2 separate regions of the Homo sapiens genome follow, and region 2 is linked to region 1. Evidence: fine-mapped expression QTL. Tissue or cell type: whole blood. Region 1 holds a variant in brackets; the other region holds the start of a gene. All regions are shown on one strand. Distances are from middle to middle.

The links. PIP is the estimated chance that this variant, and not a neighbour inherited with it, causes the effect.
Region 2: BLK starts here. The variant in region 1 is fine-mapped to the expression of BLK in whole blood (TOPMed, PIP above 0.99).

The regions. Positions count from the first base shown.
Region 1 is chr8:11,544,913-11,547,533 of GRCh38, reverse strand. It overlaps BLK (BLK proto-oncogene, Src family tyrosine kinase), which reads right to left. Exons shown (of 13, transcript NM_001715.3): 3 at 1,431-1,482. Among named protein-coding and RNA genes, the nearest start is that of BLK-AS1, 12 kb to the left of the region's middle. RefSeq lists enhancers at 827-876, 1,247-1,406 and a silencer at 997-1,046. The variant G/C (reference allele first, on the strand shown) is at 1,274.
Region 2 is chr8:11,493,268-11,495,767 of GRCh38, reverse strand. BLK (BLK proto-oncogene, Src family tyrosine kinase) reads right to left here and starts at 1,381. Exons shown (of 13, transcript NM_001715.3): 1 at 1,177-1,381. RefSeq lists enhancers at 1,070-1,159, 1,170-1,359, 249-1,448 and a cis regulatory region at 1,068-2,500.

The DNA of each region.
Region 1 (2,621 bases):
ACACTGTCTATGGCTGCCAGTGACCCTGCCGGGCCCCCCACCTTGCTGGCGGGCCCTGGATGGAAGGCAGGAAGAGGGCTCAGGAGCTTGGAGCACCATCTTCAAGTGAGCCCTGCTGTGACGCAGGCTCTCTGCACAGCTCTGGGAGCCACAGGACCCACCTGATGAAGGTCACCTGGAGAGCACTTAGCTTCCCCGGGTGGGGTGGCTCCGCTCTGTCACTGAGCTGAGTGTTGTGACCTCGGGCTGGTCACCTCTTCTCAGCAGGAAAGCGAGGGTCAGAATGGGTGACAGTGGTTCCCTGAAGTTTTAAGATTCAGGTTCTGCTCACAAGTGTGACAGATTCTGAGCTTTTCCAGGGAAGGGGTCGCATCTACCTGTTGTCACCCCTTCGCCATTCCTGGGACAGAGCTGGGCTCTGTGTGCTGAATGCCCAGTACACATCATATGAGCAGGTTAATGGGTGGGGCCCGGCTGGCCGAGGCATCCCTTCCCCATGCTGTGTGGACATGGATGATGAGGAGGCTGCGGGAAGTCACTTTGAAGGAGGCCACCCTCTTGGGAGTCCCCAGGGGTGGAGCCTCTGGCCCAGAAAGGCTGAGCTCATTCCCTACAGTACCCAGCAGGCCAGCCCACCAGAGCAGAAGTGGAGTCTAGGGGCCACGCACAGTGGCTCACGCCTGTAATCCCAGCACTTTGAGAGGCTGAGGCGGGCAGATCACCTGAGGTCAGGAGTTTAAGACCAATCTGGCCAACATGGTGAAACCCCCTCACTAGTAAAAACATAAAAATTAGCCCGGTGTGGTTGTGTGCACCTGTAATCCCAGCTACTTGGGAGGCTGAGGCAGGAGAATCTCTTGAACCCGGGAGGTGGAGGTTGCAGTGAGCTGAGGTTGGGTCACTGCACTGCAGCCTGGGTGACAAGAGCGAGACTCTGTCTCAAAAAAAACCAAGTGGAGTCTGGGGACCAGGTAGGGGCGTGGGTGGTTAGGTGGTCAGCAGCGGGACTCTCGAAGTGACTGGGAGCGGGAAACAAGAAGGTGCCCTCCACATAGAGCGGACAGGGGCTGGAGGCAAGGGCCTGGAGCCACTGGCCCAGCCCTTTGCGTTTGAGAGTTAGCATATTTTAAAACTTGGGTTTGATGATGCTGTGTGTCTTCCCTGGGACTCTTGTTTTTGTTCTTGTTTACAGTTTGTAAAGTCTTTCATGTTTTAAAAGTCCCACCCAGGCTCAGGCATACTGAAGAAACTTGTTCTTGGTTCCTGAAGAGAC[G/C]CCCCAAGAGGCACAGAGCCGGGGCCTCTCTCAGCTTCCCCGTTTTCTCTTCTCCAGCCCTCAAGCTGCTCCTGACTCAACCTTTTTCCAACTCCACAAAGCTGCCACCTAGGGGAGAGGGCTGTGGAGCCTCAGCTTCCCAAACCACCCTTCTTACCTTCATCCAGGTGTTCATCGGGCGGTGGAGGAGTAAGGTGGTTGAAGACAACCTTGGGTAGAAAACACACACTTGAGTTATTTCAGTCCCTGCTGCGTGGGTGGGGCCTGGGGGTTGAGACTGCTGAGCCGGGCAGCCAGGGTATCTCCAGGGACCTACTGAAGGAGGAGAGGCAGCTGCCTGTGGGGGCTGCTCAGGGACATTCTGTACCCAGGGACCAGCACTACCCTCAGACAGACCCCCGCCCTCTGCTGCCTTTGCCCTGACCGCGCTGGGGGATGCCCCAATGTGGATATGAGACAGCTGTGGACAATGAGGGAAAGCCCAACCACTTGGGCTTAACATCCTGGCTCTACCATTACAAGATCAAACTGCAAACGGGTATTTGTTGACAAGAAAAAATATTTAAAAAGCATATTTCCCCAAAACTCGACAAACATATTTGTAGGTATATATCCTGTAGAGAAACTTCTGTGTATGTGTACAAGAGTGTACAAGGGAATGTGTACAAGAGGGCTCCTAGCAAAAATCATAATACATAAACAATTTTTTTTTGAGATGGAGTCTCGCTCTGTTGCCCAGGCTGGAGTGCAGTGGCGTAATCTCGGATCACTGCAACCTCCGCCTCCTCAGTTCAAGCAATTCTCGTGCCTCAGCCTCCCAAGTAGCTGAGATTACAGGTGCCCGCCATCACGCCCAGCTAATTTTTGTATTTTTAGTAGATACAGGTTTTCGCCATGTTGGCCAGGCTGATCTTGAACTCCTGGCCTCAAGTGATCCTCCCACCTCGGCCTCCCAAAGTGCTGGGATTACAGGCGTGAGCCATCATGCCCGACCGATACATAAACAATTTTAAAACGTGGAACTAACCCTCATGACAGAAGAATAAACAAATTACAGTATACTCAGGCAATAAAATTAATGAGCAACAGCCACGTGCATCAACGTCGATATGTTTCACATGCGTAACACGGAGCCACAACCCCAGTCTCAGAAGCATATGCGCTGTTTGATGTAGTTGATTTAAAGTTTACAACATGAATAATGAAACTAAATATCGTTTAGGGGTAATACATATGTGATAATATTAAAAAGCAAAGCTAAGGAATGATAAACAGATTCTGGGTATTGGGGCCTGGGGTGAAGGGTACAAACAGGGGAGGGAGGAGGGAGATTCAAAGGAACGAGTCT
Region 2 (2,500 bases), 52 kb after region 1:
TTCCACTAATGACCTTTGCGGTGTTGCTTTAGGATCCAATACAGGATGCGAATTCTGGGTTTGGGTGTCCTGACCATCATGTCTCCTCTGATCTGTGACGCTTTGCCTGTCTTTCTTTGTTTTTCATGACCTTGACATTTTTGAAGGTGAAATATGTTGTGGAATCTTCCCCAGTTTGGATTTGTCTGATGTTTTCTCATGATTTGACTGGGGTTATGAGTTGGTGGGAAGAACCGCACTGTCGTGGCAGTTCACAATAGCAGCCCAGCTTATTCCCGGTGATGCTAAGCTTGGTCCCTTGGTGAAGCTGGCATCTGCAGGTTTCTCCTCTACAGAGCTACTATTTCTCCCTTTCCATACTCTTAGTCCAAACCTCACTCAAGGTGAGGGGAATTAAGTCCCACTCTCCCGAGGGAGGAGGATATGCACATATCACAGCAATTTCTTCTGTTACTGCAAACGCACAATTCCTTAGTTCCTTGGTAATGTGGGTGGATGAGGGTGAACTTCATCCACCCGCATTACCAGATAAATGGAAACGTTGTCAAAACCTTACAATTTACACAAATCCTTTCAAAATATGTGATCAACTATGCTTTCCTTTTCACAGTTGGTGTTTCCTGGTGAAATAGATCTCTTAAACAAGAAGATCATCATTACATCTATTCAGTTACCCCATTCCTGAATGCCTGAAAAATGGAACAACTTCATTCAGAAACAAACAAATAAAACGAAAGCAACAGTCATTTGCCTTGAGCCAGATGCTCCCCGCCTGTGACCACTAACCTCTGTCAGCTCTGCACAGTCAATATCACCTCCTATCAAGAGGCCGAGTGACTCGCCGGGAGCGCAGCAGTGGCCTGTGTGTGCCCGCTCAACCCCCTCTCTACATCCCACGTCCCTTCTCTCCTCTGTGGCACATTCACTGCCTTTTCCAAAAAGCAGAATCTACCCTGGATGGATGACCTTTTATAAATTAAAAATTCTCAAAACTGGAAATGCACAAACCATGGAGCAATCTATTCATAGCTGAGGCAGCGATCCATTCATGCCTCTTCCTCCGTCTGTGGCACCCACAGCAATGTCCTTGCTTGCTTGCCCCACTACAGGCCTTACAGCACCATTTGCACAATTTAAAGGAAGACGATAAAGAACCCGGAAGACGCAGGGCCTCACCTTGGCAATGCTTCAGTGGTGTTTCACCATAGCTCTTCAGATCCTGACACCCTTACAGTGGAGCAGGCTCCTAGCGACAACGAGCAACTTCCAACACCATCCTAAAGCAAAAGCCAGTCCCAGATGAATTCTTCTCATCTCAATCAGTTTTCATGGCTTGTGGCTTTCTGCCGGCAGCAGACAGAGGTGGCAGCACCCCCGGTCTGCGATCAGAGCCTCCCCAGTCCCCAGTGAGCAAGTGCAACAGGGGCCCCGCCCTCCAGCCGAGCCCTTCTGAAGCTCCTGTGGGCTCCCTGGGTTTGGGGGTATCCCTCTGCTCCAGGAAAACTCGTGAGGAAGGACCATGAGCAGCTGCCCTGTCCCTGGCCCTGGGCAACGTGGGTCACAATGCCCTTCTGTCACCAGAAAGTTTTCTCCTGGGGTTTTGGTTTAACAGCACGGCTGGTATTTTTTCTGCACCAAGTCCGGCAGAGTTAGCAAACCTCCATGCTGACTCTACAAGGTAATTTGCCCTGCCGTGTGGACAAACGCTGCAGATCTCATGGAGAGGGCTTGGGCTCTGCCATGTGCCATCTGTGTGCACCAGGGCAGCCGTTCTTTCAGCCTCACTGGTTTTGCTTTGTCTTTAAATGATGCTAATAATAGCTAGCTCACAGGATACTATCAGCATTAAATGGTAGAATGGGTATGAATGGTGGGCATAGAATTGGTGTTTGGTAAAAGCTAATTTCCCATGTGTTTTACAGTACCCTAGCCAGTAGTTAGTTGACTTGGATCTCAGAGCCTCTTCAATGGTGGAAATTTGCTTGGCTATGAAAACTCAGAGGAGTAGAGAACAAGAATAATGGAGGTAACGGGAGAAGGATCCCAACATCTAGAGTGGTGAGTGGTGTCTGGAGTGGTGGGTGGCATCCTGTACACAGCAGTCAAAGGACCAATGGGACCAAGAAGGCTTCTGTGATGACGTCAGAGTCTTGCTGGTCCAGCCAGACACAGTGAGCCACTGGTCAGCTGGTTCCTTTCCACTAGTGTCTTGATATTGGCTTATAAGAGGAAGTCACTCGGTGGGCTCTCTCTTCTCCCTTCATAGTCTTGGATCCTTGAGAGTGGGTGTGGGAGGCAGACAGGGTAGCTTCTACCCCATGGTCCAGAATGTCAGCTTTCTCAAGGAGTTCATTTCCTTGGATTGGACTGAGACAATACTGAGCTATGAGTTGCAGGTTTGACAGGTGTTCATGTCAATAGACGCAGCAACGCAGAGTTCTGGGGTTTTAAGACACTATGGAAATAATCTGTTTCACTTCCCCAAGGGGTTTTGTGAGAA